2 separate regions of the Homo sapiens genome follow, and region 1 is linked to region 2. The links come from fine-mapping of genetic effects on gene expression. A gene starts in region 2. The other region holds a variant in brackets. All regions are shown on one strand. Distances are between the middles of the regions. Region 1 overlaps HDAC4 (histone deacetylase 4). Region 2 holds the start of HDAC4 (histone deacetylase 4).

What was found. PIP is the estimated chance that this variant, and not a neighbour inherited with it, causes the effect. A credible set is the group of variants that fine-mapping cannot tell apart.
Region 1: its variant is the best candidate, but not a certain one, in a credible set for the expression of HDAC4 in whole blood (TOPMed, PIP 0.63).

The regions. Positions count from the first base shown.
Region 1 is chr2:239,278,484-239,282,862 of GRCh38, forward strand. All of the region lies in intron 2 of HDAC4 (histone deacetylase 4), which reads right to left. Among named protein-coding and RNA genes, the nearest start is that of MIR4269, 25 kb to the right of the region's middle. The variant A/T (reference allele first, on the strand shown) is at 1,832.
Region 2 is chr2:239,398,543-239,402,921 of GRCh38, forward strand. It overlaps HDAC4 (histone deacetylase 4), which reads right to left and starts at 2,478. Exons shown (of 27, transcript NM_001378414.1): 1 at 2,436-2,478. It overlaps HDAC4-AS1 (HDAC4 antisense RNA 1), which reads left to right and starts at 2,894. Exons shown (of 2, transcript NR_135575.1): 1 at 2,894-2,994; 2 at 3,533-3,815. RefSeq lists silencers at 2,127-2,296, 2,307-2,746, 2,767-2,886, 3,157-3,426 and an enhancer at 3,557-3,686.

The DNA of each region.
Region 1 (4,379 bases), 120 kb before region 2:
TGGCCAACATGGCAAGACACCATCTCTACTAAAAGACAAAAATTAGCCGGGCATGGTGATGAGCAGCTGTAGTCCCAGCTACTCAGAAGGCCGCAGCAGGATCGCCTGAGCCCAGGAGACAGAGGCTGCAGTGAGGCGAGATCATGCCACTGTACTCCAGCCTGGGTGACAGAGGGAGACTGTCTCAATAAAAACAAAAAACATGTTTTGTACCACATGTCAGTCAAAATAAGTGGCCGAAGGCTGTGGTTTGCTTTAATTCACCTTCTAAGGTGGCTCTGGACCTTCCTTCAGGAAACGGCTTTCCTGCCCATCAGTGTGGCTCTCTTCCTCTTTAAACATGAGGACCATTGGGGCCGGGGCCGGGAAGACCACACTCCTGAAGCCAGGTGCAGTAGTGTGGACATGTAGTCCCAGCTACTCAGGAGGGCGCCTGGAGCCCAAGAGCTCGAGGCCAGCCTGGGCAATAGTGTCAGACCCTATCTCTTCCAAACAAACAAATAAAAAGACTATGCTGCCGGCAGGACTGAAAAACCAGAAAGAAAGAAAAGTGGGGCTGGTGTGGGGCCACACCCTGCCCCAGGCGGGGAAAGTGGTTGGAGGTAATGGGGCAGCAGGGCCCACAGGCCGGAGGGCTCCCCTCCTGATTCCAGGGCATCAGCAAACTCAAATTTCATAATGGCTTTTGCTTGCAAAAGCAAAGTGCCTGATTTGCTGTTTCTCCCAGGAGACTCTGGGCTGCTAAGAAGGCAAAGCCTGAGGTCTGTGCCTGACCAGGAGATGCTCACGTCTCTGAGCTGAAAACAGTGACTGAACAAATGACTCATTAGAGGGATCAATGAACAAACTGGCACCAGGCACTAAATTCACACTTGATCCCCTCAGCCTTATAATAAACTCATGAGGCAGTTCTACTACATCCATCTTACAGACGAGAAAATCAAGGTTCAAAGAAACTAAGTAATGCTCCCAATATCTAGGCAGAAAAGCTGGGGTTCAGGCCCGTCTCTCTGCCTCTGAAGTCTGTCCTCTCTCCAACGTCCCAGCAGAAAACCTCTCCCTAGAGAGGACACTGTCGGGGTGAGGAGCAGAAGGGCAGGGGTGGGAGCAGCCCAGGGTGGAGTGAGCTGGGACAGCTCCAGCAGCAGCAGAAGCCAGAAATCTCACACAGCCCCCACAGTGCCTCCCACAAATGAAGGTCTCCTGAGAGCAGGGGACCTGGGGACAAGAACCAGCCACACCAGGCCAGGCCCGCAGGGGGCATGGGATGGGGGCGACTGAGTGAGGAGTGTCCCCTACCCTCACCACGAGAGTCCAGGTGGAAACCGCGCCCTCAGGATGAATGGCCAGCTCTCACCGGGCTTCTCCACGCCTTCCCCAGGACCCTTCCCTAATGTTTCCAAAGTGGCCACAAACCATGAGTGGCCTGTCTGACGTTTCCCTCCCCGAATTCTAGGATCAATAACTGTGGTCCACAGAAAGTGCGGATCCCACCTCTCGGGAGCATCTCATCCCTTCCACTCCTGCGGAAGAGGACAGCACCCCCCAACCCCAAAGTGCCTGTGTTTCCTAGCACCCTGGGATTCCAGCTCGTCAGCTAAGAACTGGCCATGCTGATGAAATCTCCTTATGCCACTTGAGACATGTGCTGGTTCTTGTGGCATCAACCCTGAAAAACATGTTGGTCAAAGAAAAAAAAAGGCATCTGGAAATTTCTACCTTATATTCTCTCGTTTTTAACAATGCCAGCAACCCAAGAGTGGGGGCAAAGCTGATGTGCGAGTGCCTCGTACTCCCGAGACGCTGTGTTAAAGAAGGAAAGAAGGCCACA[A/T]GCCCTGAAAGCACATTTTGCCCCAAACTCCACTTCACGTTACATGCACGAAGAACATTAGAGGAATACAGAGCTGTTTCTGGGAAGCCAGCTCCACTGTATGAAACATTGAGTCAGCATGACTCAGCCGTGCCGACTGGTCCCTCCGATGGGCGAGCCAGGGGCACAGAAGGCAGGCAGGTGACCCGGGCACTGCACGCCTCCCCACCTGGTCCCAAATGCTGAAGCCTCCAAGCAACTTAAAAAGGGTAAGGAAAACATTGTGGGAGCAGGTGCATTGTGGCCTCTGCCAGGAGGCTCGGGGGCCTCTCTCCCGCGTGAGGAAGACACCAGGCACAACAAAGATGCGACGCAACATCCTGGAACTGTCTGCTGTTAACAGGGGATGGCAAACTCCATCCAAGTCTTGTCCCCATGCACACACGTGTGTAAACCATGTACACCACTCCACAATGTACACACCACTCTACAATGAACACACCACTCTACACACAATGTACACACCACTCTACAATGTACACACCACTCTCCACACAATGTACACACCTCTACAATGTACACACCACTCTCCACACAATGTACACACCACTCTACAATGTACACACCACTCTCCACACAATGTACACACCACTCTACAATGTACACACCACTCTACAATGAACACACCACTCTACACACAATGTACACACCACTCTCAATGTACACACCACTCTCAATGTACATACCACTCTACAATGTACACACCACTCTTAATGTACACACGACTCTCAATGTACACACCACTCTACACACAATGTACACACCACTCTCAATGTACACACCACTCTACAATGAACACACCACTCTACACACAATGTACACACCACTCTCAATGTACACACCCCTCTACAATGAACACACCACTCTACACACAATGTACACACCACTCTCCACACAATGTACACACCACTCTACACACAATGAACACACCACTCTACAATGAACACACCACTCTACACACAATGTACACACCACTCTGCAAACAATGTACACACCACTCTACAATGAACACACCACTCTACACACCATGTACATGCCACTCTACAATTTACCCACCACTCTACACACAATGTATACACCACTCTACAATGAACACACCACTCTACACACCACTCTACAATGTACACACCACTCTACAATGTACACACCATGCTACAATGAACACACCACTCTACACTGAACACACCACTCTACACACAATGTACACACCACTCTACAATGTACACACCACTCTCCACACAATGTACACACCACTCTACACACAATGTACACACCACTCTACAATGTACACACCACTCTGCAAACAATGTACACACCACTCTGCAATGTACACACTACTCTACACGCAGTGTACACCCCACTCTACAATGAACACACCACTCTACACACAATGTACACGCCACTCTACAATTTACCCACCACTCTACACACAATATATACACCACTCTACAATGTACACACCACTCTCAATGTACACACCACTCTACAATGAACACACCACTCTACACACAATGTACACACCACTCTCAATGTACATACCACTCTACAATGAACACACCACACTACACACAATGTACACACCACTCTGCAAACAATGTACACACCACTCTACAATGAACACACCACTCTACACGCAGTGTACACACCACTCTACAATGAACACACCACTCTACACACCATGTACATGCCACTCTACAATTTACCCACCACTCTACACACAATGTATACACCACTCTACAATGAACACCCCACTCTACACACCACTCTACAATGTACACACCATGCTACAATGAACACACCACTCTACACTGAACACACCACTCTACACACAATGTACACACCACTCTACAATGTACACACCTCTCTACACAATGTACACACCACTCTACAATGTACACACCACTCTACACACAATGTACACACCACTCTACAATGTACACACCACTCTACACACAATGTACACACCACTCTACAATGTACACACCACTCTCCACACAATGTACACACCACTCTACAATGCACACACCACTCTCCACACAATGTACACACCACTCTACAATGTACACACCACTCTACAATGTACACAGCACTCTCAATGTACATACCACTCTCAATGTACACACCACTCTACACACAATGAACATACCACTCTACAATGTACACACCACTCTCAATGTACACACCACTCTCAATGTACACACCACTCTACACACAATGAACACACCACTCTACAATGTACACACCACTCTGCAAACAATGTACACACCACTCGACAATGTACACACCACTCTACAAACAATGTACACCCCACTCTACAATGTACACACCACTCTACAATGTACACACCACTCTGCAAACAATGTACACACCACTCTACAATGAACACAGCACTCTACACACAATGTACACACCACTCTACAATGTACACACCCCTCTACACACAATGTACACACCACTCTACACACAATGTACACACCACTCTACAATGTACATACCACTCTACAATGTA
Region 2 (4,379 bases):
AGGGCATTCTTCTCAACGAGGTCTCTGGCCACAGAGTCCAGATGGGCTGCCTGAGCCGCACGTGGCCAGCGTGCCAGGTTGTCCTGTCCATCTTGCTACAGCAACAGCCCCCAAGGCCTCCGAGAATATGGCATTTGGGGATTTTTATTTTGCATGGCTAGGAAGCTGCTGAACACAGAACATTCTCTCTGGTGCAGGGCTCCGAGGCCACATCTGTCCTTCGTCCCTAGGCCTTCCAGGCCCATATGCAGTCCAGTCATCTTCCCTCCACCCCGTCCCCTTAGCCCAGGGCTCCCCCGGGGGCATGCCTGCTGCCAGCTCCCCTTGCAGGAGAAAGAACCCTAAAGAGGGCAGCGTTACATCTGCCTGCTGAGTACAGCCGGCTTCTTTTCTAATTGATTACTGCTCTCTTTAGGATGGGATTTGATCTCTAAAATAAAAGCCCAGAACACAGAAAGCTATAGAAGTCTTACAATGTGTTGGGGTGTGTGTTTTTAAGGCATGAAAATACTTCCCTCCCACACAAATGTGAGTTCTTCTGGGGAAAGATGCCACAGATCCCAGAGAGTAGAATATCTGGGAAAGCCCGATCAGTCTTAAAAATAGGTAATTGAACACAGATTTTAGAATTCACAAGAGCTACCTGAAAAAAAATTAAATTTCACATATTTTTGATATCCAAAACTCCATTCTGATGAAACTTCTAACTCGGTGGCATTTTGCATTTCCAATTATAATAGAGTAATTGTGTTGCCATAGTTACTGCAAAATTCTGCAATAACTTTTGTTGCTTTGTAACTGCTGTAGTGTATATTTGTGTACAAGCAGCTGAGTTTTCTTAATTCGATCTCCCTCCCTTCCACCCTCCCTCTCCCCAGCCACCACCACCACCTTTCCTGGCTAGGTCCTGAAACCACCACACCAGCCTTCTTTGGACAGTCCCGAAAATAATGCACAGAATTATCAGAAGCAATTAAAACTCCAGGCAACCACGATCATATTACAAAAGAAAAAGTGAAACCAGGTCAAGGTGCAAACCTGCCAGTATCCCCCCAGTCCTGCTGGGCTGGCGCTGGGCCAGGACTGTTTACAGGCTTACTCCCAGGCCTTAACTGCTTCGGTGATTTGTGGGAATAAACAGAAAAGCCTGAACAGAGAAAAACGGGGCGGCAAAGTGACTGCACAGGCCCTTTCCTCCCTCACGGAGAGCAAGCAGAACTGCTCTCAGCAAGCAATTAGGTAGGTCTCTACAGTCATGCAATTAGGATTTAGTGAAGAAAGTCATTAGTTTTAAAATAACTTAAGTTTAATTTCTGCAACGCTTTATTTGAAAACTGTGTCACAGCAGGTCAATTTACAACATGCAATAAAGAAAACACTCATATCAGCTGCCTCAAGTTATTACAAATTTTTGATGTGCATTAAATGAGTACACTGGGTTCCACCCCCGGCCTTTCCAACTGATACGCACGGTCTCCTCCTATAACAGTGTCAAATAATTCAACGCTCAATGTAAATACGAGATAATTTGCTTATGATTCCGTGGTGTGTTTTCGCAACGCCGGCAAACGCGGATCCCACCCCCGAGCGGGACCGGGCCCCGTCTCGGCCTGCTGGCGCCCTGCGGGCTGAGCCGAGCGGGTCCCGGGCAGCCCCCCGCCCTCCCGCGACCCCCCGGGCGCTCGCAGCGGCGACGACAAGCGCGGGGCCGCGGACCCCCGGCAGGGACGTTTTTCTGCAAACTCACAGCATTTGACAAAGTTACATAAACGGCGCCCGGCCGGCCCCGGCGCCCGCCCGCCCCCGCCCTCACTCCCGGCGGCCCGGAGCCCACCTGCTCGGGGGGCGCGGGCCCCGCACCGGGAGACGGCGCCGCTGCCTGCCGTGCCCACCCCCGCGCCCCCGCCCCGGCGGGCGAAGCCGCCTCGCGGCGCGGGTGGAAAGGTCCAGAAGGGGCCGGGCGGCCCTGGGGACCGGCGGGTCCCACGGCGCGCGGCCAGCGCTGGCCCCCGCCTCCCACGGCCGCGCGCGGGGCGGGTGTGGACCGGCGGCGTCCACCTGCCGCGGGCTCCAAGGCCTGCAGGCTGCGCGGGGCGCGGGGCGGGCGGCGGACAATGGCCCGCGGGCGCCGGGCCGGGGCTGCGCTTACCGCGGCGGGCGGCGGCGGCCGGCTCTAGCCCTGCTCCGGCGCTCCGCGCCGCATCTCCTCAGCCTGCGCCGCCACCCGCCGGCGCGCGGGCTCGGGCTCGGGCGGCGACAGCCGGGACGCGGCCACGGCGCCGCCGGGGGCCCAGGCTGGGAGGCTGTTCGGGCGGCGGCGGCGGCGGCGCGGGCGGGTGCGCGGGCTCGGGCTCGGGCTCGGGCGGCGGCGGGGACGGTGCTCCGCGGCGGCGGCCCCACAACCTCCCCTCCTCATTCACAAAAAATTGACCCACGTTGAACCATGATGCTTCTCCCCACTCCAGCGTCGAGCCAGGCGGCGATAGGCCACCCCGCACGCCCGTCAGCCGGCCCGGCCCCGCCCAGCCAGCCGGCGGCTCGCCAACCATTGGCTGCGGCAGCCTTGCGTCACCTCCCCTTGCGGGCCCCGCCCTCCCGCCTGGTTTCTAATGAAGAGCTCGTCAATTACGGCTCGGCCCCGCCTCCCGCCCGCCCGCCCCGGGCGCCTGGCCGGCCTTCCATTGGCCCGCTGAAACCTGCGCACAGCCCGTCTGCTCCCACCCCTCGCCCAGCGGCTGCTCAACCGCGGGGCCGGATGCCCTATGAGCGGCAGAGAGGCTCCACCCCTGCCCGCCTCCCCGCACGCGTCCTGGACCTCATTGGCTGCTGGAGCTGCCAATTCTAGAGGGTGGGGCGTACCAAAAGACGCTCCAGGCGCCAGCCGCTGGGTGCTTCGCGGTTGAGGAGGCGCAGGGACCGGGGGCCAGTAGTGGCCGTAAACACGGGCCCCGGCCGTGTCCGGTCGCACTCGGTAGCCCGCATGGCTGCCTAGCGGTCAGCACCGCATGTCTGCGAGCCTAATTCGCGCTTAGAGGGCACACAATGGGGTGCAGGCTAACGCGGGGAGCCGGCCAGGCCTCGCCGCGGCGTCCATCTTGGATACTGGCAGTGGGTCACGTGGTGCTGCGTGCGCACGGAGGCGCAGGGCGGCCCGGTCACTGAGTGCGCAGGCGCCGTGGGCCTCGCCCTGCCCCGCGGCGGGAACGCGGCCGTGAGGGTGTGGGGTGTAGGTCCGCCAGGCCTGCAACGGCTGCCGAGGGTCGTGGGATGCGCTCGCCGCGTCCCTGCTCAGGCGGAGGGAGCCCGGCCCGCCGCCAGGGTCTCGAGTCCGGGTCCAGGCAGGCGTGGAGGTGGCGGGAACGGCGCACCGCCCGGGTGGGCGTTGTTTTAAGGCCGCAGGGCTTGGGAGGCTTGTGTTGAGTTACAGGTCGGCCCGTAGATCCCCGGAAGCGCCTTTGGTTGCCAGCAGGTGTCGGCGAGGGTCTTCAGTGGCCACCCTCCTGGTGGTGATGTTTCCGTTTCTTTCCAACAGGAGTATGACAACTTTTCAACTTGAGTGCACACACTGTCCCCGGAATCCCGCGTTCCAGGGAGGAAGCGCCTTTGACAGCGCGCGCCGGTTCGTGGGGCCCGACGGCGTGGGCCTGTGGTTGCGGACCTGGCGGAGATGCGCGTTCGCTTCGATTGTAGGCCATTCCTTTTAGGAGCTGAGAAAGGATCCGTTTTTACAGCATTCTCGACCTGTGATTCTTGGTGGGGGAAACTAGTTATGTGGATAAAAATACAGTTAGCAAAATAAAAATGCCAATTTTACATTTCCTTAAATATCTCATTAATAATTAGAAAACTTTGGTCATTGCAAGAAATGCTTAGGCTAAACTTAGAAGGAAAGGAATGGTGAATTAGAGAACTTTAAAACAAGATACAGCTGAAGAAAAGGAGAGCAATTACGGGGTTTTGGAGACTTGGCTGCTGATGGAAACGGTGCACTATCTAATTTTCATGTAGAATGAAACAGGGTCTGTAGCTAGCTAACATCTAGATAAGATTCAGTATCATTTGACAGGATTCTCAAAAACATACAATCACGAGAAAATATTAAAACCTGCCTGTAAGTCTACCAAAGTTAGTTTTTCACGTACAAAGAGAAGTGCCTGCGCAAAAAGTCACGTGAAACGAGCTCTGGGATCTAATGCTTGCAGAGGTAATTTTTAAAAAGTAGATTTCCATTAGAAGGAATGGGTAGCCCCATTGCTGCGTGCCATTTAGTCCTCACAGGAGTCCTGAGAGGCACTCCAGCAGAGTGAGGCACCACGCAGACGTTGGGTGGATGGTGCAAGAACCTCACTCGCCATGTCTGGAAAAGAGAAACTTGGCCT